Homo sapiens: one gene and its partners. The protein of the gene in region 2 interacts with the protein of the main gene of each other region in a pairwise test. Each region holds a gene or a part of one and is shown on either strand. Other genes may lie near its edges. The genes, in order: SSC5D, EXOC7, YAE1 and SAPCD2.

The links.
Region 1: the proteins of EXOC7 (region 2) and SSC5D interact in binary tests that used the Homo sapiens proteins (3 or more experiments, as listed by UniProt).
Region 3: the proteins of EXOC7 (region 2) and YAE1 interact in binary tests that used the Homo sapiens proteins (3 or more experiments, as listed by UniProt).
Region 4: the proteins of EXOC7 (region 2) and SAPCD2 interact in binary tests that used the Homo sapiens proteins (3 or more experiments, as listed by UniProt).

Annotation. Positions count from the first base shown.
Region 1 is NC_000019.10:55,483,532-55,491,444, forward strand, and holds the start of SSC5D (soluble scavenger receptor cysteine-rich domain-containing protein SSC5D isoform 1 precursor), read left to right. Parts: upstream 1-4,904; 5' UTR 4,905-5,058; coding exon 5,059-5,083; intron 5,084-5,474; coding exon 5,475-5,501; intron 5,502-5,822; coding exon 5,823-6,131; intron 6,132-6,350; coding exon 6,351-6,464; intron 6,465-6,766; coding exon 6,767-6,877; intron 6,878-7,240; coding exon 7,241-7,549; intron 7,550-7,913. Other genes in the region: ZNF628 (zinc finger protein 628), read left to right, coding at 1-842; NAT14 (probable N-acetyltransferase 14), read left to right, coding at 2,178-2,249, 2,877-3,425.
Region 2 is NC_000017.11:76,100,782-76,108,563, forward strand, and holds the start of EXOC7 (exocyst complex component 7), read right to left. Parts: upstream 3,007-7,782; 5' UTR 2,912-3,006; coding exon 2,852-2,911; intron 2,791-2,851; exon of another isoform or gene 2,646-2,790; coding exon 2,580-2,645; intron 1,083-2,579; coding exon 898-1,082; intron 596-897; coding exon 490-595; coding exon of another isoform or gene 427-489; exon of another isoform or gene 230-426; intron 1-229. UniProt on the Homo sapiens protein: Component of the exocyst complex involved in the docking of exocytic vesicles with fusion sites on the plasma membrane.
Region 3 is NC_000007.14:39,561,570-39,569,417, reverse strand, and holds the start of YAE1 (protein YAE1 homolog), read right to left. Parts: upstream 3,015-7,848; 5' UTR 3,000-3,014; coding exon 2,871-2,999; intron 1-2,870. UniProt on the Homo sapiens protein: The complex LTO1:YAE1 functions as a target specific adapter that probably recruits apo-ABCE1 to the cytosolic iron-sulfur protein assembly (CIA) complex machinery. May be required for biogenesis of the large ribosomal subunit and initiation of translation.
Region 4 is NC_000009.12:137,061,624-137,067,573, forward strand, and holds the end of SAPCD2 (suppressor APC domain-containing protein 2), read right to left. Parts: intron 4,752-5,950; coding exon 4,639-4,751; intron 4,046-4,638; coding exon 3,899-4,045; intron 3,563-3,898; coding exon 3,455-3,562; intron 3,357-3,454; coding exon 3,240-3,356; intron 3,165-3,239; coding exon 3,036-3,164; 3' UTR 504-3,035; downstream 1-503. UniProt on the Homo sapiens protein: Plays a role in planar mitotic spindle orientation in retinal progenitor cells (RPCs) and promotes the production of symmetric terminal divisions. Negatively regulates the mitotic apical cortex localization of GPSM2.

The DNA of each region.
Region 1 (7,913 bases), on a different chromosome or scaffold from region 2:
GGGGTCTAGGGGTGCAGGGAGCGGCCAGCGCTGGGGCCAGCGGGACAGGGCAGAGCCTCATCGTTCTGCAGAATGTGGGGGGTGGGGAGGCAGGGCCACAGGAAATGAGTGGGGTGCAGCTCCAGCCCCTCCGACCAGCCCCAGAAGTAACCACGGTCCAGCTCCAGCCAGCGCAGGAGGTGACCACAGTCCAGCTCCAGCCAGCACAGGAAGTAACCACGGTCCAGCTCCAGCCAGCACAGGAGGTGACCACGGTCCAGCTCCAGCCCGTGGCCGGCCAGCTCTCCAATTCCAGTGGGGGAGCTGTGGCTACTGAGGCACCCAACCTGCTGGTTGTTCAGAGCGGGGCAGCTGAGGAGTTGCTCACTGGCCCGGGCCCCGGGGAGGCGGGGGATGGCGAGGCCAGCACTGGTGTGGTCCAGGATGTCCTCTTTGAGACACTCCAGACGGACGAGGGCTTGCAGAGCGTGCTGGTGCTGAGCGGGGCCGATGGCGAACAGACTCGACTCTGCGTACAGGAGGTAGAAACACTTCCTCCTGGGCTGACGGAGCCGCCTGCCACCGGCCCACCCGGACAGAAACTCCTCATCATCCGCAGCGCCCCAGCCACTGAGCTGCTGGACAGCAGCAACACTGGAGGAGGCACCGCCACGCTGCAGCTCCTGGCCCCACCGCCGTCAGGCCCAGCCTCGGGCCCCGCGGGGCTCCCCGGGGCTCCAGCCTCCCAGATGGTGCAAGTGGTCCCCGCAGGAGCTGGGCCTGGTGTTATGACCCCTCAGGGCCTGCCCTCCATCCAGATTGTCCAGACTCTACCCGCAGTCCAGCTGGTGCACACGTTTTGAGGAGAGGCAGTGATTCCCCTCCCGCCCCGCACAGAGACCCCGACTCACTGCCAGCCGGGGCGGGGCAGGGTGCCGCAGGCTGGGCTTGCTAATAAAGACCCGAGTCTCCCCGCCTGTGTTTTGTTTTCCTGGGGGGAGGGAAGGGGGCAAAGTCATGGTCCTAGCCCCCGCCTGGGAGCGTGGAGTCTTAAGTCTTGCGTCCTGGGTCGCAGATGGCTTGTTCTGCATCCTGGGGCCAGCCACTACGTAGGGCTCAGTTCCCCTGTCCTGAAACCAAAAAAGGCCGCAGGGGTCATTATAGTGGGGAGGTGGTGACATCAGACTCCAGGGAGTGCTACTTGTTCACTGTAGGTCGCCCCGCTGCCCCCCTCGTGTGAGAAGTAGGGGGATCCTTATGCGGAAGGGTTCTGCGACCCCGGGCGCCCCGTGGGTGGAGTGGGGTCCCTGGGGATGGGGGAGTCGGGCGCCAGGATGCTGAGCGTGGCCGGCTCCTCCCGCGAAGGCCCCGGCACGGATGAGAATCCACGCGCTGGCGTCGCCGCCCGGCGCTCAGGTTGCTCAGCAACGAGGGAACGTGGGGCGGGAGCTCGCGCTGGTCCCCAGCCCGCCGCCCGTCTCCTGCCGGCTTCCGCTCCCGTTCTTCCCCAGGTCCCCTTTCCCCGTTGCTCCTTCTCTAGGGATAGGAGAGGTCGCTTCCCGGCCCTCCGCAGGGTCACAGCTCGGTTCCTCCCAGCCCGCCCTCCGGGGAGCTTAGCAACGGTTGCTACGGCCCGGAGCGGGCGCCGCCCCGCCCCACCGCGCGCGGTCTGACGTCACTTCCGCCCGCGACCCCCTTCCAGACCCGCTCCCGAAACCTTGTCGAAGGACCAAAGGCGACCGGTGCAGGTGCTTGCTGGTCCTTGTTCTTGTGGCGCGGGACGGGGACGACTGTGGGGGAGGGGGCGCTGGGGACCGGGGTGGAGCGAGCGTGGTCCGTTCTCTGGCATGTGGGGAGGGTGTTCGTGGACCCCAGTGCCTGGGAGGGAGCCCCGTGCTGCAGTGTTGGCGTCCGCAGCGCGTTTGGGAGTGTAGATCGCTGAATAATACGGGGGAGGGGGGATCCCGGGAGACTTTAGCAAGGTCGCTGAGTATTGTGGGGGGCGCCTGTCCTGCCGAGATCCTCGCTTGGGGGCCCCGAGGGTTCTCAGTGTCCTGATCTGGGAAGTGCCGTTGCTGCTCCCTACCCCTCGGGGGAGCTTTGGGGACAGAGGTGCCCCCCTGACGCTGACCTACTTATGTTCTCACCAGGTGCACGACGCCAGCTCCCTTCTGGGGGGCCGGGGCCTGGGGGTTGCCATGGCCCCCAGCCACCTGTCAGTGCGGGAGATGAGGGAAGATGAGAAGCCCCTGGTGCTGGAGATGCTGAAGGTGAGAGGCAGGGGCCCCAGGGGGCCTGGGAGTGGCTGCAGTGGGGGAATTGCAAGTGGATTCAGCCACCCCCTCCCACCCACCTGAGCCAGCCTGGACCCCTGGAGCGGGATCTTTTCCTCCTGAGCCTCAGCCGCCCTGCTGCTGAAAACCACAGCAGGTGTGGCAGGTGGGGGCTCACCCCCCCAGCCCTACTGGGACCCCAGCACCAACGCCCTCCCTGGTCTCCCATCTCCAGTCGGCTGTGCACGCCAGCACAACAGCCAGCTCTGTGCCTCGGACCCCAACTCTTCAAAGCACAGCCCAGCACCCCAACCTAGCCCAGCAGCCTCCCTCCAGCCTCCACTCCAGCCTGAGGCAACCTCCCTGTCCTTACTTCCCTGGGGCCTCACTGCGGCATTGCTACTGAATTGAGTGCCCCCACAGCTCCTAATTCACTCATCCATCCATCATTCGCTCTCGTTCATTCATTCACTCCATACCCAGTGTGCCACACTGAACATCGGACTGTGCTGCCTTCCCTTCCCATTTGGGAGCTCTCACCCCGCCCCGGGCAGGGTCTACCTCCTCTCTTTGTCCAGGAGGCCCTAGCGTTTCGGATGGCTGAGCCACCCCTCCTGCCCACAGGCCGGCGTGAAGGACACGGAAAACCGCGTGGCCCTCCATGCCTTGACACGGCCGCCGGCCCTGCTCCTCCTGGCGGCGGCCAGCAGCGGCCTGCGCTTTGTCCTGGCTTCCTTCGCCCTGGCCCTCCTCCTGCCGGTGTTCCTGGCTGTGGCCGCCGTGAAGCTGGGCCTGCGGGCCCGATGGGGCTCGCTGCCTCCGCCGGGTGGCCTGGGGGGCCCCTGGGTGGCCGTGCGGGGCTCCGGTGACGTGTGTGGGGTCCTGGCTCTGGCCCCTGGCACAAATGCAGGGGACGGGGCCCGGGTCACCCGCCTGTCTGTCTCTCGCTGGCACCGCCGCCGGGGCGTGGGCAGGAGGCTGCTGGCCTTCGCGGAGGCCCGGGCTCGGGCCTGGGCTGGGGGCATGGGGGAGCCCCGGGCCCGGCTCGTGGTCCCCGTGGCTGTGGCCGCCTGGGGGGTGGGAGGGATGCTGGAGGGCTGTGGCTACCAGGCCGAGGGGGGCTGGGGCTGCCTGGGCTACACGCTGGTGAGGGAATTCAGCAAAGACCTGTGAAGCTACAGACTGACAGCCAGGGCAGGGGAGGAGGGAGGGGCGCCAGCACCTGATGATCGCCTACTGTCTGCGGGTTCTTTTACCTGCTCTCCCTCAGTGAGTCCTCAACCACCCTGGGCCCAGAAACAGAGGCCTGCCGAGGGGAGGAGCCTGGCCTCTGTCCACCCGTCAGCAGTGTGAAGTCTGTTGTGTTTGAGCTTCTCAGAGTGGAATGACTCCTTTTCCTTCCTGGCCCTCGGGGGCCTCTCGAGGTCAGCCTCTCCAACCCCTACCTCAGCTCCTGTCTGCACTGAGAAACCTCCCCGGGTGATGTCTGCAAAGTCTGTGCTGTCCGTGCCCCAGGCTGGGAGAGCTATCTGGGGAGGGGGAGAGGAGGCCGAGCAGAATACACCCCAGAGTTAGGGTTTGCGACTCCGCCTCCCTGGGACCTGGATTGGGTCAGATGCCTGTCCTTGGAGGGGACAAGGTTGACTGCTTAGGAGGCGCGACGCACAGGGCTGCCAGGCCTGGCCCCTCTCTGGGAAGGTTGAGAGCTGAGACGGGCAGCCCTGTCCCTTCCTCCAGATCCGTCTGGTTTTTTACACCGTTTGTTAATAAAGCCTGAAACCGCTGTGTGCCTGTCTCTTCTCTGATGGCTTTCCCAGTCTGTCTCCGGACACCCCCGCCCATTTCTGTCTGGCTTCTCCTTTCCCCAGTTAACATTAATTGTTGGGGGACGGTGCTGGACTGGGAGAAGGGGAGGCTGTGAGCTCAGGGGCAGCCCGAGGCCCTGCCAGCCCTTCTGAGTCACGCTCCCCATTACCGAATTTTTTCCGCCTCACAGCTGCCTGGTGTGCAGGCAGTGGGGTGTGTGTGTGTGTGTGTGAGTGTGTGGAAGAGTGTGTGGAGCCCCTCCCCTTCCCAAGCCTTGACCCTTGTGCTGCTTATCCCCCGACCCCAGCTCCCTCTGGGACAGTGAAGTTCAACCTCTCCTCTCTCAGCTGGGGACTGGGGGCTTCACACTCAGATCCACCAGTGAGTGGGAGGACTGGAGGGCCGGGTCTTTCAGTCTCTTTTCCTAACCCAGGAAGTCCCTCCTGGTGTCTGGCTGCAAATCTTCTTGCTGCTGCACCAAGAACCCCAGGTCTGCCCAGCCCCCAACCCTAGCAGTGGTCTCACTGGATTTCCCTGACCAGACAAGAGGGGAGACAGCAGGTGGGCGCCCCTCCCGCTCATGCTGCGCCCCCCCCGCACACGTCCCCCAACCCCTGTCCTGTGCCTTCCTGCAGCCGGCCACCCCCTAAGCATCTCTGGGCACAGCACTTTGCTGGCTGGAGCCTGCCTGGCCGTCGTCTCCATCTCCCGTGTGGGTGTCTGCAGTTGGACACCCTCCCTCCCGCCCGCCACCCCCCTCCCCCCCATGCCTCAGCAGACGGCCAGCCCCCTCCCGCCCCCCCTCCCCCCCACCGTCCCCTGCCGCCTCCCTGCAGCCTCTTTCTTCCTCCTGGCAAAGCGTCCAGCCCTGCCTGCTCCTCCTCGGGCCTGGGCGCCTCCAGCAGGCACTTCCCTCCCTCCCTCTCTCCCCAGCTGCCTCCTCCTCTTCTCTCCCCGCTCTCCTTCCCCTTTCACCCCATCCCCTGCCCTGGCTGCAACCATGAGGGTCTTGGCCTGCCTCCTTGGTGAGTGATCCATTCTCCTTGGGGACTCGGGGGGCCTAGGCCCCCACCTCTGACCCCTTAGCTTGTCCAGTTTAGGGACTCAAACTTCCGGGACTGGTCGCTGGTGCTCCTGCATACCCTGACATCCCTTCTGAGGATCCCTGCTCAATCTGCCCAGCCTTCTGCCAGCCCAGAAGCCCAAGGGACCTGCCCCCTGCCCGCCCCCCAGCCCTGACCCTGCGGGGGATCTCCCAGACATCTGACCTTTAGCCAAGCCCATGTGTGTGTGTGTGTGTGTGTGTGTGTGTGTGTGTGTGTGTGTTGGGGTATTCAAGATGAGGGGCCTGCGCTGGAGAAAGGGCCACCCCCGGCCTGCCCCTCACACTGCCCCACCCTCCGCCCTCCCTTCCAGCGGCCCTGGTGGGGATCCAGGCTGTTGGTAAGTGCCCAGACTCCTCCCATCTGCCCGCCCCCCCCCCCAGGCCTCCCCCTTCTGCCCATCCAGGCCTGGCCTCACCCCCACTGGGTCCCCGGCCCATCCGAATTCCACTGTGACCTTGGCCCCAGCTCCGCAAGGGAATCCCCCAGGTGTCTGGCCGCATCTCTCTGAGCACCCAGGAGTCTGGGCCCAGGGGCCAGTGAGCAGGGCCACTGGCCTACAGACAGTACCTGCAGGACAGCCACCTGCCCCTACAGTTGCCCTGGCCTTGGGGCCCCCAGGATGCCCCTCCCCAGTCACAGCCATTCCTCCAACCCTCAGAGCGCCTGCGCCTGGCCGATGGCCCCCATGGGTGCGCTGGCCGCCTGGAGGTCTGGCATGGCGGGCGCTGGGGCACCGTGTGTGATGACGGCTGGGACCTGCGCGATGCCGCCGTGGCCTGCCGGCAGCTGGGCTGCGGAGGGGCACTGGCCGCCCCGGGAGGCGCCTTCTTCGGGGAGGGGGCAGGGCCTGTGTGGCTCAGCGAGCTGGCTTGCCGGGGCAACGAGGGGCAGCTGGGCCTCTGCCACCACCGGGGCTGGAAGGCCCACATCTGCTCCCACGAGGAGGACGCGGGCGTCGTCTGCGCAGGTGAGGACACCCTGGCTGCTCCTTCAGGGGGAGCTCCTTTGGAGATGACCCAGGAACCCCAAGTCCTTAGCCCCAGCAAGTCTGAGTGTTCAGCAGTTCAGAGACACCCAACCTCCCATCCCCTCCAAAGCCAGGTGGCTAACTCCCTCTTCCAGGGACCCAAATGGCCTGGATTCCCCTCCTCTCCTCATAGCTTCTGTCCCTGCCCCCCCGCCGCAGGTCAGCGTGTGGCTAACTCCAGGGACGACTCAACATCTCCCCTGGATGGGGCTCCCTGGCCAGGGCTGTTGCTGGAGCTGAGCCCCAGCACGGAGGAGCCCCTGGTGACACATGGTGAGCCCAGGGGACTGCCCTGCCAACCCCCACCCAGCGTGCCCTCCTGCCCCCCCCGAGGGGAGAGGGACTGCCCTGCCAACCCCCACCCAGCGTGCCCTCCTGCCCCCACCGAGGGGAGAGGGACCTCTGCAGTATGAACTCCCAGGGGACACACAGCCCGCCCCCTGCCCCGCCCCGTCTCCTTCATAGCCTAGGGAGTCCTCCATCACTTCAGACCCTCAGAGACGGAGGCCTGGGCCCCCAGGTGGGAGGAAGGATGAGGGGCTCAGCTCCTGACCCCTGGCTGTCTCCACTCCCAGCCCCCCGCCCAGCTGGGAACCCCCAGAACGCCTCCCGGAAGAAGAGCCCCCGGCCCAAGCAGGCCAAGTCCACCCGGGCCCCTCTGCTGACGACAGGAGCCCCCCGCCAAGGTAAGCTCCCTGCAGGCTCCCCCGACCCCAAGGCTGGTTGCTGTGAGGCCCAGGGCCCAGAAAAACTGAGGACCTGCGGGCGCCCTCTCCTTAGCCGGGGCCCTGGAGGGATCCCAGTGTTCCCCGCGTCCCTCCCCCGGGGATTTAGACGGCCAGGCCTGGTCTCCCCTCTTCTTCCTGCCCTGTCAGGAGGCCCAGGTGTCCTGGCCCGCTCAGGTCGTGGACTCACCTCTTCACGGGCTGCCGGCGGACAGATCTCAGGCCACCGCTCCCTCAGGCCTGTTTCCCCAGGTGGAAATCGAGGAAGGGGTGTTTGAATCATTTCTCACTGGCCACACCGTCCCCTCCCTGCTCACCCCACAGAGCGGCTGCGCCTGGTCTCTGGCCCCCACAGGTGCGCCGGACGCCTGGAGGTCTGGCACGGCGGGCGCTGGGGCACCGTATGTGACGATGGCTGGGACCTGCGCGACGCTGCTGTAGCCTGCCGGGAACTGGGCTGTGGGGGGGCGCTGGCTGCCCCCGGCGGTGCCAGATTCGGGCCTGGTGCAGGGCCCGTGTGGATGGACGATGTGGGGTGTGGAGGAGGAGAACAGGCCCTCCGAGACTGCCCCCGAAGCCCCTGGGGCCGGAGCAACTGTGACCACAGCGAGGATGCGGGGCTGGTCTGCACCGGTACGTCGGGCTGGGGCCTGGCCCCCTCCTGTCTTCCTCAGACCCCAGCTCCCTCTTGCCCCTCCAGGAAGCTGCAGCGGGCCTGCTCCCAGCTCTGCCTCCTGCCCGCCTGCTCTCTGCATGCCCAGCGCCCACTCACCACGCTCTCCAGCCCCTCCTTCCACAGCTCCTGCCGTTCTCCTTGCCAGGAATGGGAGGAGCAGGCTTGAGGCTTGGGCTAGTGCTCAGCCCTGTCCCGGGGCCTAGGCCAGTGACCGTTTGTTTAAGCCTCAGTTTTCCTGAAGGAGCGATGGAGCTAAGAATGCCTGCCTCAGGCTTGAGCCAAGTCCTGGAACGCAAGAAGCCCTGCCTGCCCTCTGCCACC
Region 2 (7,782 bases):
ACCAGTCTGGCCAACATGGCGAAACCCCGTCTCTACTAAAAATACAAAAATTAGCCAGGTGCGGTGGCGAGTGCCTGTAATCCCAGCTACTTGGGAGGCTGAGGTGGGAGAATCACATGGACCTGGGAGGCAGAGGTTGCAGTGAGCTGAGCACTGTACTCCAGCTTGGGTGACAGAGCAAGACTCTGTCTCAGGAAAAAACAACAACAACAACAACAACAACAACAAATCAAATGTTAAGTTTATATTTTATATGTAATTTATAATTTAATTTTTATAATACATTAACAAGTTTTATAATAAAGAATTTTTAATAATAAAAAATGTGCAATTCTTGAAGCAGAGATCCTAATGCCTATAGGATGTACTGTGCTATATCCTTCTGTGTATTCTACTGCATACATCCTCAAGCTGGCTCCATGTCCCTCATGAGACCAGGGCAGAGACTGATATCCCCAAGCTTCTCACGTTATTCTGCGGACCCCTTACCACTTTGTTGAGTTCCGGGCTGTCTGGGCTGTTGTCCTGGAAATACTCCACTGCCTTCTGAATCTTGGCCATGCTTCCCAGGTACTCTTCCAGCCTACCTGTGGGGCTGGGAAAGAAAAGAGCCAGGTCAGGCTGGGGCATGGGGGATGAAGAAGGACTAAGGACACAGTATTTGGGAAAAAGAAAATTAATACAGGGGACTCCAGGCTCAAATATATTCTATCCCCCCACTGCCTTTTAAGGCCTAGGGCTTAAAAGGCGTCTCACTGTGTTGTCCAGACTGGTCTTGAACTCCTAGTCTCAAGCGATCCTCCCACCTCAGCCTCCCAAATTGTTGGGATTACAGACCAACCCTCCTGTTGGCCCAGGAGGCATTAGGAATTGACCCTCTGGGCCTCACTCACTCACCCCTCTCTGATGATCTTCTCAGTGTCACTGGCCACATGGTAGTAGCTGATGACATGGTCCAGGCAGGACAGCGTCTTCTCAACATTCTCCTGCAGCCGCTGCAGATTCTCCGTCTGCTTGTGCACAGGGATGATGGAGTTCTCCAGCTTCATAAGGCGGCTCTCAAAGGATGATAAGATAGACACCTGCGGGAGGGAAGCCTCTTGATCTTGGGACTCACAGTGGTCCCAGCACTGCTTCTACACACCCACCTTCGGCATTTCCTGCCTTTTCTCTGGTTTTCTAGACAATAAACTCCACAAGCGAAGGAACAGGGTGTACCTGTTCCCCACTGTATCTTCAGCACCTATCATGTGCCTGGCATATAGTAGGTGGTCTAAGACAAATTGGTTGAAATTTTATTTGAAGGCAAACCAAGCATCAAATTAATTCTTCTTAAAATAATCAGCCCAAGATGGCTTCCCTTCCACCCTTTGAAGCCAAATCTCAACTTCTGTTCTCTCTGAAGCATTCCTAAACCGGACTGGAAGTAGTTTCATACAGAGTAGCCTCAAATGCATTGCTGTATCTTCAAAACCCTCTCTAAGGATGAAACTCATTGAATAAGGACTAGAGGCTGGGCGTGATGGTTCATGCCTGTAATACCCAGAATTTGGGAGGCTGAGGCGGGAGGTTAGCTTGAGACTAGGAGTTCAAGACAAGCCTGGACAACACAGTGAGACCCTGTCTACACACACAGACACACACACACACACACACACACACACACACACACACAATTAGCAAGGCGTGGTGGTGTGTGCCTACAGTCCCAGCTGCTAGGAGGCCGAGGCAGGAGGACTGCCTGAGCCCAGGAGTTAGAGACTGCAGTGAGCTACAGTCATGCCACTGCACTCTAGCCTGCACAACACAGCCAGACTCTGCCTCTAAAAAAAAAAATTTAAAAATTAAAATTTTTAGAAAAGGACTAGGACTTTATTATTGTGTGACTAAATGCAAATACAAGTTTGTATTTACTCACTTTGTGCTTTTCCAGTCTCCCCTAGGAATAAAGAAGGAAACTCACTTATTGAGCACCTATTGTATACCAGGCACTGTGCAAGATGCAGTCGCATGCATTAGCGCATATGACCTTCACAGACACACTGGGAGGCTGGCACAGTCTCTGTTTTAGCAGATGAATTCGCTGACACCAGTTACCTATCAGGAGCCGCACATTTAAGCAGAAGGGCAAGGACTAGATCCCAGATCTGCCTGACTTTAGAGCTCTTTCTTTCCCTAAAGTCCTCTGGAGTGAAGGCTGAGTCTTCTCTGCCCTCAGGAATCTCAAAGTGCCAACCTCCTGGGCAGAGAGTCCACTGACAATGACATATGCCCAGTACCTAGCCCAACTGGTCAGACTCACTGAGTGTTTGCAGAAGGAGAGAAGGAAGAATGGCGAGCTTAGACAGAAAGCAGCAAGTCCAGGCCAGTGGGAAGTGCAGCCTCCTCAGTGAGGGTACGGAACATGGGGAGGGGGCTAGGCAGGAGAGATGCCAAACTGTTGCTAGATAAACCCACACACTGCCTCCGTCGCTGCCCATTCCAGAACTCCAGGCCGCAGGAACCGGAACCGCCAGGTCGCAAGGCTCTCCCCCAGGGTCCGGAGGCCTGCCCTCTCCCCCAGCTGCGGGGAGACTCACCATGTTCTTAGTGAGCTGGTCGCTCTTCTCCAGGCTGTCTCGGATGAAGGACAGAGTCTCCTCCTCCTGGGGGCAGGCAAGGGGAGGACATCACCAGAAACCAGAAGCTAAAGGAGACCACTGCGTCCCAACCCCACGGCCTAGCCCCCAACCCCATCTCCTCGCTGGGTGCGCTCCCTCCCACCCCTGCCTCCTCCATGAGTAGACAATCAGGCCCCGCTGTTGGCCCCTTTCCCTCACCTCCTCCCCAGCCTCCCCAGGCCCACGCCCACCTGCTTCAGCTTGTCCTCAATCTCCCGCCGTCGAGCGGATGCCTCCTGTGGGGGAATCATCGCTCTGAACCCCGCGGCTCCCACTCCCCAGTATCTTTCCTCCGCGGGCCCACCGGGCCCCCGTCCCCGTCACACCCACTTCCGCTCTTGGTCCCGCCCCGGGACGCCTGGGCGGAGCCATGTTGGGAATCGCAGGCTGAAGTGCGCCTGCGCGGAGCCCAAGAACGGACCGACGGCCATTTTGAGCGTGGCTGGGAAGAGAAGTGTATTCGGATGCTGCAAGGGACCTCGACGCGGGTTCCTTGCCTCAGCAGAGGTTTTCGATCGGCCTTATGTCCCGCGGCTGGCAGGACACTTAGAGCTCACTTGCTGTTTTCGTTGAAAGACCGACCCTTTTGATAAAGACTGCTGGGGAAGGCGACGAATTCCTTTCCCCAGGTCGCATTCTATGGGCAGGCACCAAGGCCAATTGCGTTTCCCACAAAGCCCCGCACGGAGCAGGTGACACAGTAGATGCCTAACGTGTGTCCATGTAATGAACCAGGGGCTTGTGTACTTGTTTCCGCCTTCCACCCTGCATTACGCAAAAACGTATCCTGTGGGCTGGCGGGGCTGCTCCGGAGCTCCAGGCCCAGACCCAGCGTCCAACTGCAGCTCCAGGGGACGGGGTGGGGGGCGCCCCTGGATCAACTTCCCTGCGGGGCTGGATGTTGTGGTTGCAGACCCAGCTCCTGCAAAACCTCGAGTTACTCCTTCCTCTAACCCGTCCCTGCCCACCCTGCCTCTGGCCCCCAGCCTTGAGAAAGGACAAGGCCGACCAGCTTGGTTCAGTCCTTCTGTGGCCTCAGTGTCCAGACACCCGGAAGATAGACAAGGAGGCATGTGCTGGTAGATGAGAAGGTTTGGGGCGGGCAGGGGGGACACCAAGCTTTTTTTTTCCTTTCTTTTCTTTTGAGAGAGAGTCTCACTCTGTCGCCCAGGCTGGAGTGCAAGTGGCACGATCTTGGCTCATTGCAGTCTCTGCCTCCCGGGTTCAAGTGATTCTCGTGCCTCAGCGTCCCGAGTAGCTGGGATTACAGGCGGCTGCCAACACGCCCGGCTAATTTTTTTGTATTATTAGTAGAGACAGGGTTTCGCCATGTTGCCCAGGCTAGTCTCGAACTCCTGACCTCAAGTGATCCACCCGCCTTGGCCTTCCAAAGTCCTGAGATTACAGGCGTGAGCCCCTGCTCCCGGCCTAAGGAGAGAAGGAGAGAAGGAAGAACCCAAGCTCTAGGGTTCCCAAGCGCTCACTCCACCCATAGTCACCCGAAGAGGAGGAGGAGGAGGAAGTGGGTGCACAGAGCCTGGAGAGGGATGGGCAGCCTTCCCTCAGGCAAGAGGACAATTTCAATCCTGTTGTAGGTGGGGGAGATAAAAGGCTGATTCCTGTGTCAGGAAATACCCAGGATGATTTCGCTGACATGGTCCTTGTGTAGTCCAAAGGGCTAAGTAGGAGAAAGTTTAAACTGTTAGATGTCACAGAATAGAGTAGCGGGGCTAGTTAGCCGCTGTAGAGAGGGTGTTTTGGGCTCAGGTGGACTACCTTTGAGGGCCTGGTCCAGCATTTAACCTGAGTCTCTCTCTCTCTCTCTTTTTTTTTTCTTGAGACGGAGTCTTGCTGTGTTGCCCAGGCTCGAGTGCAATGGCGTGATCTCGCCTCACTGCAACTTCTGCCTCCCGGGTTCAAGCGATTCTCCTGCCTCAGCCTCTCGAGTAGCTGGGATTACAGGCATGGGCCACCACCCTGGCTAATTTTGTATTTTTAGTAGAGATGGGGTTTCTCCATGTTGGTCAGGCTAGTCTTGAACTCCCAACCTCAGTTGATCCGCCCGCCTCGGCCTCCCAAAGTGCTGGGATTACAGGTGTGAGCCACCGTGCTTGGCCTGAGTCTCTAAACAGTTCCTGGCCCATAGTAGATGCTTAATAAAAATACTGATAATAAATATTTTGCTCCGGCCAGGTGTGGTGGCTCATGCCTGTAATCCCAGCACTTTGGGAGGCCGAGGCGGGTGGATCACGAGGTCAGGAGTTCGAGACCAGCCTGGCCAACATAGTGAAACCCCATCTCTACTAAAAATACAAAAATTAGCTGGGTGTGGTGGTGTGCACCTGTAGTCCCAGCTACTCGGGAGGCTGAGGCAGAATTGCTTGAACCCAGGAGGCAAAGGTTGCGGTGAGCCGAGATGGTGCCATTGCACTCCAGCCTGGGCAACAGAGCAAGACTCCATCTCAAGCAAAAAAAAAATTTTGTTTTTTTTTTGCTCCATAGGTCTTGGGAATCCTTTATGTGCGTGAGGAAGCTAATATTTTCAAATCTGTACAATGTCATTGCATTTTTGTCAATCAGCTGTGTGTGCTTTACTGCATTTCCTTCAGTGTCTGAGTCTAATGGGGTTAGATACCATTAGTACAATACCATGTACTGAGAGTCTTCTGTTTGCCTGTCTCTACTACAAACATTGCCCTTGCTAATGCTCCTCTAATCCTTATCATAAACCTGGGAGTCAGGCCCAGCTGTCGTCTCCCTTGTGCAGACGAGGAAGCTCCGGCTCAGAGAAGTCAGCTGTAGTAAGTCAACACAGCTGGCCAGCAAAGGGTGAGGCTCAGGCGGTCTCTTCTTTCTCCCCATGCTGGGCAGCTCAGGAGTGGTGTTTGTTATGCAAAGCTGCCAATCTGATTTTCAAAAAAATTCATTGTGAAAAGCATGTTGTATTCAAGACAACTATATTTACTAAGAGTAGACAGAATGAAAAAATGAATTTAAATTATTCTCAACCTATTATCAACCTTGGGTTGACAACAAATAGGTATTGATTCAGCTAAAACTATAATTTCCTAACTATACTCAACACGAGCTACTTTAGCGAAAGGAACAAGTGGTGCTTTAGCTGCAGTCTCAGAAATCTTAGGTCTCACATCCACAAACTTGTGCAGAACACCAAGGTGCCAGCCATAGTCGTGGCCCCCACTTCCCACTTGCAGAGATGATCTTTCCAGAGGGAGGAAAGGAGGTAAGAAGGAAGGAAGGTAGGAAAGGACAGAAGGAAGGAAGGGCCTCCCCACCCCACAAATGTGTTCTTCAGTTTCATAACTTCCTAATTTTAGACTTCATGCTCTGTCTGAGGAATCAGATGTATATAATTCCTCCAAATTAATGTTTCCTGGCCCTGTAACCATATTGCAAATGTATATGCTATGACATAACCAGAAAAGCAGGTCATAATAGTATATATCGAGATTACAACCATTTAACATATAACAGATGCATTGCAAAAAATGACTACAGGAAAACACCACAAAATACTAAAGGGTAAGTAGAACAGATGGAGGATTCTTTTTTTCTAGTTTCTAAAAATAGTTTAAATTACCTTTCTATTAAAATGCTTCTGAGTCAGGCGTGTTGGCTCACGCCTGTAATCCCAACACTTTGGGAGGCCAAGGCGGGTGGATCACGAGGTCAGAAGTTCAAGACCAGCCTGGCCAATATGGTGAAACCCTGTCTCTACTAAAAATACAAAAATTAGCCAGGCATGGTGGGTACCTGTAATCCCAGCTACTTGGGAGGCTGAGGCAGAGAATTGCTTGAACGAGGAAGGCAGAGGTTGCAGTGAGCTGAGATTATGCCACTGTACTCCAGCCTGGGTGACAGAGCAAGACTCTGTCTCAAAAAAAAAAAAAAAAAAAATCTGCTTCTGGCCGGGCACAGTGGCTCATGTTTGTAATCCCAGCACTTTGAGAAGCCTGGACAGGAGAATCGCTTGAACCCGGGAGGTGGAGGTTGCAGTGAGCCGAGATTGCGCCGCTGCACTCCAGCCTGGGTGACAGGGCGAGACTCCATCTAAATAAATTAATAATAAAATAAAATGCTGTCCAGGCATGGTGGCTCACACTTGTAATCCCAGCACTTTGGGAGGCCAAGGCGGGCAGCTCCATTCTTTGTATAGTATTTCACTGAATGGATATAATAGATTGGACCAGTTATCTATTAATGGACACTTAAGTTGTTTCCAGGTTTCTTGCTATTGCAAATTCTGCCCCCTTGGGGTAGAAAATATACATATATACGTGTCCTGTACGTGACCACCTTTGTATAGACATCTATATGCCGGACACATTCCAAGAGTTGAATTGCTAAATCAAAACGTATGTATCTTTATAATTTATTATTTTATTTTATTTATTTAAAAATTTTTTCTTTTTGAGACGGAGTCTCACTTTGTCACCCAGGCTGGAGTATAATGGCACGATCTCGGCTTACTGCAACCTCTGCCTCCCGGGTTCAAGTGATTCTCCTGCCTCAGCCTCCCGAGTAGCTGGGATTACAGGCACCCGTCACCACGCCCAGCTAACTTTTTGTATTTTTAGTAGAGGAGATGGGGCTTCACCAGGTTGGCTAGGCTGGTCACAAACTCCTGACCTCAGGTGGTCCACCCGCCTCGGCCTCCCAAAGTGCTGGGATTACAGGTGTGAGCCACTGTGCCTGGCCTTAAAATTTATTTTTAATTAATTATTATTAGTCTCTTAAGGATAAAATCTCTCTATGCTGCCCAGGCTGGTCTCATCTCCTGGGCTCAAGTGATCTTCCCACCTCAGCCTCCTGTAGCTGGGATTACAGGTGCTCACCCCCATGCCTGGCTAGATAATTTTTTTTTTTTTTAGATGGAGTTTCACTGTTGTTGCCCAGGCTGGAGTGCAATGACGAGATCTTGGCTCATCACAACCTCTGCCTCCCGGGTTCAAGCGATTCTCCTGCCTCAGCCTACTGAGTAGCTGGGATTACAGGCGTGAGCCACCACACCCGGCTAATTTTGTATTTTTAGTAGAGATGGGGTTTTTCCATGTTGATCAGGCTGGTCTCGAACTCCCGACCTCAGGTGATCCGCCTGCCT
Region 3 (7,848 bases), on a different chromosome or scaffold from region 2:
ATAACACAACACTCTCTGGGTCCATCACTGGTCACAGATAAATTGTATAGTTATCTTAATATCATGATTTTGATAAAAACAGAAGACTGATTATTTCTTTTGGTTTGAAGTGAACTGTGACTTGCTTGTATATTACAGCATTCAGTCTAGATTGTCATTAAATTGAAGACTCTACATTCAGAACATAAAAGCACTAGGTATGTAAGTTTGAAATATGATTTAAGGACAGTATGGTGGTTTAACTAGTTCTCTAATTTTTGAAAAATCTTGCCAAACAATAAGATTTATGTATATTTGTTTAATAATAACCTGTTTCAAATCTGAGTTTTGAAAATTTACATTTCCCCAGTATTGCATTATTGGGGTACTTAAGATTATTTTAGAGAAAAATATTTCTCATTTGATATAATTTTTCTCAGTTTCATGTGTGTGAAAAAAGGAAAGTATTTCCCATAAATGGGAACTTTGCCCACTGTCTCAAGAAATATATATTTCAGTGACAATTCCGTGGTTTTAGAGATATATTCCAAAATTTCCTCATATTTTTAAGTTATGCAACTAATAAAAACTACCTTACATTAATTAGTTGCAGTTTTCTACACATGGTAATATAGGATAAGCTACTGATTTAGGAAGTTTTAAAGTCCATGGTATTCTCTCGATTCCAATAAAGGTTGATTTTCTCTTGTATTTTTCTTATTTATTACGGGTTACATTTTTTATTTTTCAAATTGGATAATATCCTGGAATTATCTTTTATGATTTAGTAAACAGCATTTTTTGTTGTTGTTTCAAACTGAAGTTTACTGAGAGATCCATCAAATTGAACTGTCTGTTGATAATTTAAAATTTTGGCCATTCATTTCAGATTTTAAATCATTCTTGCTGAACTACTTGAAATTGTCTTTTAAAATTTTTCTTTTTGGATGTGAAGGTGAACATTCCTGATTTTTGTCTGATGTGGAAAAGTCCTGGTATTTTACATTTTGAAAATTCACAGAAGGTTAATATAAAACAAAGTTTGCATTCTACTCAGGAAAAAGCATCTTCTTGTATATGTTTTAAATGTATCTTTGGCATCATATACAGAAAGTTCTTAATTAATTTTACAGTCTGTAATGCTTGATGTTTCAAAATCATTAACTATATATATATATATTTATTATTATCATTATTTTTTGAGATGGAGTCGCGCTCTGTCACCCAGGCTGGAGTGCAGTGGCATGACCTCAGCTCACTGCAACCTCTGCCTCCCGGATTCAAGTGATTCTTCTGCCTCAGCCTCCCAAGTAGCTGGGACTATAGGTGCACGCCACTATACCCGGCTAATTTTTGTATTTTTAGTAGAGATGGGGTTTCGCCACACATTTTTATATTTTAAGATACAAACTTCATATTTTCCTGTTCTTTCCTAACTGCTAATATTGTGTGGTATCTTACAGGTAGAAATCAACAGGATGGTACACTTAGTGTATTTTTACTCCTTAAAGAGCATACTCCTTAAAGGGCATACATAGTTTTCACCTTACAAGAAGGGGGAAAACCATAAATACAATGAATCAACTGACCATTATGTAGTAGACAATTTCTGTAATGTCCCCTTCTTTCTAGGCTCTGCGGATAGGAGAATCCACTAGACTTATAGTAGCATAATGTACAAGTTTTCTTTAAAGGTCTCTCCTTTAGAATATAAAATATTATACCATTGAAGAGTTTGGATGTGTAACCTGTGATGCCTTAGAAAAATATCCTAAGCACAAAATAAACTTTTCTAATCACTTCAAAAGATTAAAAAAACCAAAAAACAAAAAACAAAACCCAGCATTAGCAATGTCTTCACAAAAAGGATATATGGAAAATTACACATCTGGGCTCTTGCCAACTGATTGGAATGGTGTGGGTGGGTGAGGAGACAGGGCAAAGCAGAGAGAGGAAATTGTTTAAAAAAAAAAGGATGATGAGAAGTCTGGTTTCAGAAATTTTGCATAATACCTAAATTCAACTAACCTGCAAAAGCTCTGTGGGTAGTGATTTCGTTCTGCATCTCTCACGGTGCCACAGCATTTAAAAGATGCTCAATACTTATTAGTGTGGCCCCAGTCTCACATAAAGCATTTTTGTAATTGACAACATGGTTTTTGGGCTAAGCAAATACCACTCTACTGAAATATTAAACAGGGCAGATTCCCAACTGCAGCTTTAGCGGCAATTTAATGGTTGGCAAATATATTAAGTGGATGTGGACCTCACTATTTGGTCCTCACCCAGAAATACTGTAGGCTGCACACAGAAATTAAGCTTAGTTTCAATGAATAGTGAGACAAATTAGAGATGAAAAAGTTACATCTAACAAATAAAAAAGAAACCAACTTTAATATTCCCTTACCTAGACACCAGTATTCCACATTAGCTTTCCCTTATTGTCCTCTGACAGCATGCTTTAGTTCATCTTTTCAATATGTCTTGATTAACACTACTCCTTAACTTTAGGCTCCCTACCCATTCAAGCCACCCATATAAACTGCGTACACGTCCTTTGACAGCCATAATAAGTATAGTGTATGTTTCTCTCCAGCTCCTTTCCCTGTGATCCTCAACAAACTGCAAACTGTTCAAAGTCTACACATAGTTAATTTTGGTCGGTCCTCAGTTTCTAACGCATCCCGTAGGCGCTCAAAGAATGCGTCTTGTTGTTTTACACGCTTTCAAGTAACCATCGAGAAATCCTAGCAAGACGCGGGTCGGACCGGGTCCCTAGGGATAAAGAGAGCAGCGCCGGGCCAGGCTGGGGCCACTCTGGACCCAGCTTCTTCACAACTCCGCGCCTCTTCCCACAACCCAGCACCCCGCGCCGTCCACACCACGTTTACTTTGACTCGTCTTTGCATGTTACTCTGCCATTCCCGCTGCGCCAGGAGCGACTCGTCTGCTTCTTCGTCAAACACGTCCCCTTTGTCTCCAGGGCCCTGGATCAAGGAGGCTGCTTGAACCCACGACATCACCGAGGCAATTACGGGGTCGCAGGCCACCGGAAGCGCCAACAACTCCTTCCGGTCCGAAGGCGGGGCGAAGACGGCGAGTGGAGGCTCGGGAGGGGCTGCGTGTGCGCGGAGGCGGGCTGTGGCCCGTGGCCGCCGCCGGAGCCTTTCGCTTGCGGTGATTTTGGGCTCCCTCGGTTGGCAGTGTTGATGTGTGCCTGTGAGTTGTGAGCGAGGCAGATTTCCTCGCGTGGCCGGCACGACCTTCACCTTTGCAGAAGGCAACCGGGACCCTCAGTGAGACACCTTCCATTTCCACCGTAGTCTTACCATGGTCTGGGTTTTACATTCGCGCGCTTTGGTAAACTATTAAAGGTAGTAAAGTCGATGGGCGATTACCACCCAAATACTTTGTCTCTTTTGGAATCTCCTCTGCATTTAAAGGATTTGACAAGCCGACATTTTAAACTGTTAGGATTGTGGAGTAAAGGAAAATAGGATCGAAAAGCGAGGTACTGTAGCCAATTTGAGATTAGTAAGAAATATAGAGTACATTTGTAAAGCCAATATATTTTTTCATTGATTCACGATATCCTTCTGCCTCCCATTCCTGTTCATATGCCCTAAAGTAAACAGTTGGTTTGGTAAGGGTGGGGACTTGTGTCAACACCAGGACAGTTCTGACACATAGTAAATGCTGAACTCTATTTTGGTGAATGAATGAATACCTGTAGTATTCCTGTTTTGCCCTTTGCCTGGGTAAAATGAGTCATGTGATTATGATTTATTTATCTAACAATTTATTGAACACCTACCTTGTGTCAGGTACCATTCCAGGCTTTGGGATACATCAATGAACAGACGGAAGTTCCCAACCCTTGTCGACTTTATAGTCATGTAAAATTGACAGGATAAACAATAAGCAATATATAAGTAGCATAAGGTTTGTTAGAAGATCATAAATAAATGCTATGAAAAAAATTTTTAAATAAGCACAGTAAGAACCATAAGTGTGTGGGAGTGGGTGGTTGGTTCATGTTACAATTTTAAATCTCCAGAGAGAATTTGGCATCCCACAAATAAAAAATATATAAACTACAAATATGTATATTTTATTAATGTAAATATATTAAGATATATGTATATATCTTTATTAGGAACAAAATGGTAGTAAGCAATAAAGATAACAATAAAATAGAAAACCTCAAAACTTGAATAAGTAAGTCCAATTCTTTTTTGTATTATTTGAAAACACCAATAAGATAGATAATCCTGTCATGACCCAGATTTTTAAAGAGAACAAAATTATACAAGAATGAGAAATGAGATAACCACTGATGCAGAAGGAGATTAAAATATTAATTACCAACTAAAACTCAAAAGCAACACATTCGAAAACCTGAGAGATATGAATGACTTTCTAAGAAAATTGACCCAAGAAGTAGGGTCATGAAGAGACTAATTACCATAGAAAAATTGGACATTAAATATCTACTATTAAAAATGTCATGGAGACTTGGGAGTTTCACATTAAGTCCTTTGCAATCTTTAAGGAATGATGGAGTCTTAAACTATTTTTACCATTTTAGGGGAGAGAAAAAGAAGAAACTCCTTAAATCATTTCATGAAGCCAGCCTTACTGTAACTTCATAAAGATAGTACCAGAAAAACCCCAAAGTTCAAGTTAGCTTGTGAATATATATCCAAAAGAGAATCTAGTAGGTTGGTGCAAAATTAATTGGGGTTTACTTTTGCACCAACCTGGTAGTACTTTATCAAAAGAATAATTTAAGAGGTTTTGTACCAGGAAAGCAAACTTTTGCAATATTAGGACATCAATAATATTTCATTGCATTGACTATTTTTTTTTTTTTTAAAACAGCGTCTTGCTCTGTCACCCAGGCTGGAGTGCAGTGGTGAGATCACAACTCACTGCATCCTTGATCTCCTGGGCTTGAGCTATCCTCCTGCCTCAACCTCTTGAGTAGCTAGGACTACAGGCATGTACCACTGCACCTGGCTAATTTTTTGATTTTTTTGTAGAGACAGGAGTCTCACTATGTTGCCTAGGCTGGTCTCCAACTTCTGAGCTCAAGCTATCCTCCTGTGTCAGCCTCCCAAAGTGCTGGGATTACAGGCATGAGCCACTGTGCCTAGCCTGCATCAACAATATAAAAGGGAAAAAACATGTTATATTAATAAATGCTAAAAAGTTATTTGAAAAAATTTAAAAATCATTTCTAACAAAATAAAGTAGAAATAGAAACTACAAATTGGTAAAGACTTTACAAAAATTCCAACGAGTAGTATTTTAAACACTTAGATGTTCAGATATTTCCTTTAACATATAGAAAGGAGAGGGCATCTGGTAGTCACTATTATTACTTAATATTCTTTTAGAGACTAGCACACTAGCACTTGCAATAAGAGAAGTAAACAAAATAACATGTATAAATGTTGGATAATAAAAGATGAAGATATTCCTTTTTAAAAAATGAGACGGGATCTTGTTCTGCCACCAAAGCTGGAATGCAGTGGTGCAATCATAGCTCACTGCAACCTCAAACACCTGGGTTCAAGCAATCCTCCTGCCTCAGTTTCCCAGGTAGTTGGGACTACAGGCACGCACCACAATGCCCAGCTAATTTTTAAATTATTTTTAGTAGAGACGGGGGTCTCGCTTTGTTGCCCAGGCTGGTTTTGAACTCCTGGCCTTAAGTGATCCTTCTGCCTCAGCCTTTCAAAGTGCTGTGATTATAGGCATGAACCACCATGCCCAGCCTAAGATATTCCTTTTGGTCATTATATGATTATATACCTAGAAAACCCAAAAGACTTTGCTTAAAAAATAACAGAATAAAGAAATTTGATAAAGTCTGTGAATATAAGAAAAATAAACACACCAATAGCCTCTTCTAGTAATAATCATCTAGAAATGTAAATGAGATAAATATTCCACTTGAAATACCAACAAATATTATTAAATATAGTAATGACATGTTTGTTTAGTATTTAGTGTTTATTTAGTACTATATTTGTAAATGTCAGGAACACATTTTTAAAATCATGCAGTAACATGCATACATTTTGAGTGTAAACACCACCTATGAAGATATAGAAAATTTCCATCACCCCAGAGAATTTCCTCGTGCTCCTTTGTGGTCAGTCTCTCATCCCTGGCAACCCTTGATCCAATTTTTATCACTAGATTAGTTTTGCCAGTTTAGAATTTCATAGAAATGGAATTGTATATGTCCTTTAATATATTTGGCTTCTTTGACTCAACATGTTTTTGAGATTCATTTATTTGGTTGCATGTACCAGTAGATTGATCTATTTTATTGCTAAGTACTATTTTCATTATAGGGCTATACCATGATTTGTTCATGTAGTCATTTTTGGACATTTGGATTGTTTCCAGTTTTTGGCTATTATGAATAAAGCTGCTGTGGACATTTTTGTACATGCCATTTTGTGTACACGTTTTCATTTCTCTTGGGTAAATATCTAGAAGTGGAATTGCTGGTCATATAGTAAGTATACATTTAACATTATAAGTGGTATGGGCCGGGCACGGTGGCTCACACCTGTAATCCCAGCACTTTGGGAGGCCGAGGCGGGCAGATCATGAGATCAGGAGTTTGAGACCAGCCTGACCAACATGGTGAAACCCCATCTCTACTAAAAATACAAAAATTAGCTGAGCGTGGTGGCACACGCCTGTAATCCCAGCTACTCAGGAGGCTGAGTCAGGAGAATCGCTTGAACCTGGGAGGTGGAGGTTGCAGTGAGCTGAGATCGCACCAGTGCACTCTAGCCTGGGCGACAGAGCGAGACTCTGTCTCAAAAGAAAAAAAAACAAAAAAACAAGTGGTATGGTTTGGCTGTGTCCCCGCCGAAATCTCATCTCATCTTGAATTGTAGTTCACAATCCCCACGTGTCATGAGAGGGACCTGGTGGGAGTTAATTGGATCATAGGGGCAGTTACCCTCATGCTGCTGTTCTTGTCATGGTGAGTGAGTTCTCATGAGATCTGATGGTTTTATAAGGGCCTTTTCCCCCTCTTGCTTGGCACTTCTCCTTCCTGACGTCATGTGAAGAGGGATGTGTTTGCTTCCCCTTCCACCATGATTTTAAGTTTCCTGAGGCCTCCCCAGCCCTGCGGAACTGTGAGTCAATTAAACTTTTTTTCCTTTATAAATTAGCCAGTCTGGAGCGGTCCTCTGTGGCAGCATGAGAATGGACTAATACAATAAGAAACTGTAAGCTGTGTTTCCAAAGAGATAGTACCACTTTACACTTCCACCATCAATGTTTGAGTGTCAGTTGATCCACATCCTCTGCCTCACTTGGAATTGACAGTATTTTTAACATTAGCTATTCTAATGAGTGTGTAGTAGTATCTATTACTGTGGCTTTAATTTGCATTTTCCAGATGACTTATGATATTGAACACATTTTCATGTGCTTATTTGTTATTTGTATATGTATTTCTTTTTTTTTGGAGATGGAGTCTTGCTCTCTTTCCCAGTCTGGAGTGCAGTGGCGTAATCTCGGCTCACTGCAACCCCTGCTTTTCAGGTTCAAGCGATTCTCCTGCCTCAGCCTCCCGAGAAGCTGAGATTACAGGCGCCTGCTACCATGCCCGGCTAATTTTTGTATTTTTAGCAGAGATGAGGTTTCACCATATTGGCCAGGCTGGTCTTGAACTCCTGACCTCAGATGATCCACCCGCCTCGGCCTCTCAACGTGCTGGGATTACAGGCATGAGCCACCGCGCCTGGCCAATTTGTATATTTTTTAAATGAAATCTTTGTCTATAAAAAATTAGGTTGTTTTCTTATTGTGTTTAAAGGTTCTTTGTATATT
Region 4 (5,950 bases), on a different chromosome or scaffold from region 2:
GGTAGAGTCAGGGTTTTGCCGTATTGCCCAGGCTGACCTCAAACTCCTGGGCTGAAGCAACCCTCCCGCCTCTGCCTCACAAAAGGCTGGGATTACTGGTGTGAGCCACTGCACCCGACCGATACATGTTTATTTTATTAATATTATTTTTTTGAGACGGAGTCTCATTCTGTAGCCCAGGCTGGAGTGCAGTGGTGCCATCTCAGCTCACTGCAATCTCTGCCTCCTGGGTTCAAGCAATTCTCCTGCCTCAGCCTCCCGAGTAGCTGGGACTACAGGCGCCCGACACCACGCCTGGCTAATTTTTGTATTTTTAGTAGAGACGGGGTTTTACCATGTTGGCCAGGCTGGTCTCAAACTCCTGGCCTCGGGTGATCCACCCACCTCGGCCTCCCAAAGTGCTGGGACCACAAGCATGAGCCACTGCGCCCGGCCTAGTCTTCTTTATAGCATTAAGAGATCATGCTTTTCATGGAGTAAGGAACTATAAATACCACTCCTTGTTCATGTTTCCAGAAATCTCTTTTATTTCTTTAGATATATAAAACACTGTTACTTTATATTCTCTCTGATAATTCTAGTATCTGGGTCTAGAGTCAATCTGTTGCTTCTGCTGGGTCTCATAGTGTATTGTTTCCTTGTGGTGTTTATGAATTTTTAAACCTGGATCTCTCATTTTCTTTCTTTCTTTTTTTTTTTTGTAGAGATGGGGTCTCTCACTGCGTTGCCCAGGCTGCTCTGGAACTCCTGGCCTCAAGTGCTGGGATTCCAGGCGTGAACCACCACGCCCGGCTGAGATGTTCCTTTTCCTTGGAACTTGATCAACACAAAATCCTGAGGCCTGGTGTGGGTGTGTTCCTCTGGGGCAGATTCTCAACTGGGGACACTTCTGCCCCCAAGGACACATTTCAACATCCTGAGACATTTCCGGGTGTCATCACAGTGTGCACGCACGTGTATGTACCTGCACACGCTACTGGCACCTCGCGGATAGAGCCCAGGGACGCTGCTCACATCCTGCACGGAGACTGACCCGCCCAGCGTCCTAGGGCAGGCTCCAGGCAGGGTCTGCATGTGCCTCTGCCAGCCACCTAGACCCTGCCAGCCGGGGCCTTTAAATTCTCCCCTCGTGGTCTCCAGGGCCACTCACTAGCCTGATTTCAAGCTGTAAACTGGGAGGACCTATTTCTTTTCACCTTGCACGGAACACCAAGGCTGAAAGGCAGTTTTTCCGGAGGTGCCAGCCTGTCTCACATTTCCGCTTCAGCTGCGGGGTCCAGCTCTATGTGGGCGGTCTCCTGATGAAGTCACCCCGGGACAGACACTGTTCTGTCTCCTGCTTCCAGTCCAGTAAAGATGCCAGGATCCCCCAGGGCATGGCAGGCACCCTCAAAGGCAGACGTGGGGAGGCCCTGGTGGGCAGACCCCAGCCTGCTGACGGGGGGCTTCTCCCTGGCTGCCACTGGCCCACCCACTGCGCTGCAGTCCACCTGGTGCTGGGGCTGTGGGGCACAGGCCCTCAGGACCTGCACCCTTTCCTGCCCAGGAGGTCCAGGCCTGACATCCTTATGTCCCCTGGAAAGCCCACTCCCATCTTCAGGGTAGGAGGGCAGCTGCATGCTGGGCTGACTTGGGCCTGTCCTGGGACACCCCTGCAGACCAGGTGCAGCAGGGAATGTGGCTCTGTGGGGTTGCTGTGGGCAGGTTAGCATGGAGCTGGGCTCCGGAAGGGAGTTGCCACGCTGCCTGCCAGGGCCCCTCCTCTGAGACAGGTGCCTTGTGGGACAGTGTACCAAAGTGCCCTGGACACGAGGGGGCCCTGCGCCCCCCACGCACTGACCCCGCATCGGAGGCCCTGCGCCCCACACACACTGACCCCGCATCGGCATCGGGGGCCCTGCGCCCCCCACGCACTGACCCCGCATCGGGGGCCCTGGGCTGCAGAACCCATCGATGCTGTTGCCGTGCCCCTGGTTCTGGTGACACTGGGACCCTCCAGGTTGGGCTGAGCAGGGCCCCCCCACCAGTGCGTACTCCAGCACCAGCGGGAGTGGGCCTGGGCAGGGGCTGAGGGAGTGACACCCAAGGGGACCTGCCCCAGCCTCCTCCTGTACCCTGGGGGTTCTCGTTTTCCTTGGCTGAGGGAGGTGGCCTCTCCCAGCTGAAACCTGGGGACAGGCTGGGCGTGAGAGCAAAGGGGGGTGAGCAGGACCCCAGGCCTTGGAAATCCTGAGTCGGGGGAACAGGCTTTGCCTATGACGTGCCTGGGAGCTGTCTGGGGGCCCTCCTGGGGAGCCAGGCTCACAGGATGTTGTGTGGGACTCAACGTGGGGCAACGTCCCGGCCAAGAGGGGGAAGGCCATCACCCCAGGGTCTGTGGGAGGCACATGCAGGCCAAGCTCTCGCCCACCCGGCGTGCCGATCCGCTGCAGCCAGGGTCCCTCAGCCTTGGCCAGAACCTGAAGTCCGACCGCTATCCCTGGGGCTCCCCAGCCAGGCAGGCACCCCCCGCTTACAGGCCGTCCCCACCCCCTCCATCTACTTCCGTCCGTCCGAGCTACAGCCACCTCGTCCTGGTGCCCTGGTTGAGCGGGAAGCTGCCCTTGGACCCGCGTCGGAGCCGCCCCGCGCCCTCTGCTGCCCGTTGTTGGAAGTGCAGCCTGGCGTGGGCAGTGCCTTTCCCTGAAGATGGGACCCAGGGCGGCACCGCTGGAAACGGGGGGACGCTAACTCATGGAGGGGTACCCCACTGTCCACTGACAGCGGCAGTAGTAGCTGCGGACTATGCGGACTCAAGAGAGCCCCAGCCCATGTCAGCACCAGGAGCCAAAACGGAGTCAAGCGCTCGGTGCGGGGACCAGCCGGGGGCAGGCCTGGGGAGCCCATCTGGCAAGGGCGGCAGGAAGGCGCCCACTCCGGGACTGTGCCTGGGCCTGCCGGGGGTCTCCAGCCAGAGAGGGTGGGTGCGATGGGGCGCCCACCCTCGAAGGGCTGAGTGCCAGGCTGGCCCTGGGGGCCCACGCGGCCCACAAGGACTAGATGAAGGTGGAATCCAGAGGTCCCCCGTCCTGCTGGCTCAGGGCGCGGGCCTCAAACAGCTGCTTAATGAGCGCCGACTTCTCCTGCTCCAGCTGCGTGATGCGCTCACTCTTCTCGGTCACCTCCTGGGCAGGTGCACAGTTGGTCAAGGCCTGCGGGGCCTCACCCCCACCCCTGCACCCCTCCCGCGCCTGCCCTACCTGGGTGAGGAGTCGGTTCTGCTCCTTCAGCATGAGGATGGTCTGCTGCTGCCAGACCGGGGGTGAGGTGGACGTCAGGGCAGGGCAGGGGGGCCCGGAGGAGGACGGGGGCAGGGCCTGCGGGAGGGCAGGATTAGGCAGGCCTGGACGAGGGCGGGGAAGCACTAAACTGGCCTGGGCCCCAGCGTGGGTGTGGGGGTTTGGGGTACACTCACCCGGCTGGCACAGGCTGCAGCCAGCAGCTCCCCCAGGCACCGGGCCACCTCTTGTACCTTGGGCAGTAGCCGCCCCAGTGGGCGGGGGCTCCCTGCAGCCCCAAAGTCCTGGGAAGAAAGCAGAGGACAAGCGGTCAGAGAGGAGGTCCAGCCGGGGCCAGCAAGGTGCCTTGATAGGGGTTCCCACAGGTGGCTCTCCTGCCTCCTGATGCTGCAGAGAGCCTAGAGGGTCCCAGGGGCATTGCTGAGGTGGGAGGTCTGCCCAAGACACCTTAGGCCCTAGGAGTGGGGCAGCCACAGGCGGAGAAAGGGATGTCTCAGCATCCTGGGTGGAATCGACAGCCACTGTGTCCGGGAATAGGGGCAGCCACAATGCCCAAGGGTGCCTGGGGTGAGCTGGGGTCCCCATGTGTGGGGATCTGGGGACAGGGCTGTGGCACTCACGGCGCTGGCTCTGCTCTGGCCCAGGCGGCGCTGGCGCTCCTGCACTCGTTGCAGCTGCTGCTGGTACCAGTCGCGGCCCCGCGCCATCATCTCCAAACCCTGCAGCAGCACCTCCTTCTCCTGCTCCAGCTCCTTCATCTGCTTCAGCTGCAATACGTGCATTTACATGGAATGCCTGGCCCCAGTGAGCACGCACACGTCCACACATGCATGAGCTCACCTGTGGGTGGGCACCAGAGCCACAGACACAAATGCAGCAGCACGTGTACACGTTTGCAAACACCCACGGACGCACGCTTCTGCTGACACCTGCATGTGTGAGCCCCATAGGCCCATTTGGAGCAGGAGCCCCGTTCCTCCTGCTGAGGGGTCTTGGCCTTTCTTAGCCCCTCCACTCAGGCTTCCCTGGGGGAGGGGTGACGGACCCTTCAGCTGAGCCCACCCTCCCGAAGTCTGCCTGTGGTGAGCACACAGCTGGGAAGCCAGACTGGCTTGCAGCAGCAACCTCGTGAGGCGGGCTGGGCAGCCACCATAGCTGCCCTAAACGACCTCTTGACCTCCCTCTGCCTGACCCTGGGCCATCCCTCCAGGGGAGTCAAGCCCAGGTAGGGAGAGAGATGTCCAGAGCTGACTGTACTTCCGCCATGGACTCCCCCAGGCTCAAGGCCCCCCTGCTCCCATCCCGGCCTCCAGCCTCCAGGCAAGATGGAGAGCCCCACAGAGCCCCAGTCCCTGCTCACCAGGCCGCAGTCCACGCCGCTGGCGATGGTGTGCCTCCGACGTTCCCCTCGGGCACGGGGAGCCCGCCGGGCATCCCCTGAGTCCGCCTCCAGGGCCCTGCACGCCACTGCACCTGTTATGGAGAGGCATGGGCCTGGCTCACCTCCAGACCTGCCTGGCCAGGCTCTGCTGAGGTGCAGCGGCCTCCACATCTCAGCCCACCCTCGAGGTCTCGGGCACCAGCCTGGCATGGCCCACGTGTAGCCTCTGTGCCAGGCTGGAGTTTGGTCCCTCTCCCCTTTCCAGCTCCTCACACTGGCTTGGGGAGGGCTGTGCCGCCAAGCCCGCATGTTTGCTCAAACACACACCCTGCCCCCTCATCGGTCCGTGAGCTCTCTGGGGCCAGAGGCCTTATCCAGCTCTCTTCTGCACACCCAGTGCCCAGAACATGGCAGGCACACCCTGGGTCTCCAAGGCAGCTGGGTAAGGGAGGAGTGGGCGGGGGGGTTCTGGTCCTGACTACGCCTCTCCCATCTGCACGGGGTCCTGCAAGGCAGCAGGAGATGTGGGTGTGAATGACGGAAACCTAACTTTTCCCAGGATGGTGACTCTGATAGAAAGTTAGTCCCGCATGGCCGGGCACAGTGGCTCACGCCTGTAATCCCAGCACTTTTGGGGACCAAGGCGGGTGGATCGCTTGAGCTCAGGAGTTTGAGACCAGCCTGGGCAACATGGCAAAACCCCATTTCTTCCTTTTTTTCTTGAGACGTTGTTTTGTTCCTGTTGCCCAGGCTGGAGTGCAATGGTATGATCTTGGCTCACTGCAACCTCCGCCTCCCAGGTTCAAGTGATTCTCCGGTCTCAGCCTCCCGAGTAGCTGGGATTACAGACACCCACTACCATGCCCAGCTACTTTTTGTATTTTTTAGTAGAGATGAGGTTTCACCATGTTGACCAGGCTGGTCCTGAACTCCTGACCTCAGGTGATCCACCCACCTCAGCCTCCCAAAGTGCTGGAATTACAGGCGTGAGCCACTGTGCCCGGCCGGCAATACCCCATTTCTATTAGAAACACAAAAATTAGCCTGGTGCAGTGGCATGCACCTGTGGTCCCGGCTACTCAGGAGCCTGAGGCAGGAGGATTGCTTGAGCCTGGGAGGCAGAGGTTCCACTGAGCCCAGATTGCGCCACTGCACTCCAGGCTGGGCAACACAGCAAAACTTTGTCTCAAAAAAAAAAAAGATCCCTTGCCGGGCACGGTGGCTCACACCTGTAATCCCAGCACTTTGGGAAGCTGGGGCGGGGGGGGATCAGTTGAGGTCAGGAGTTCAA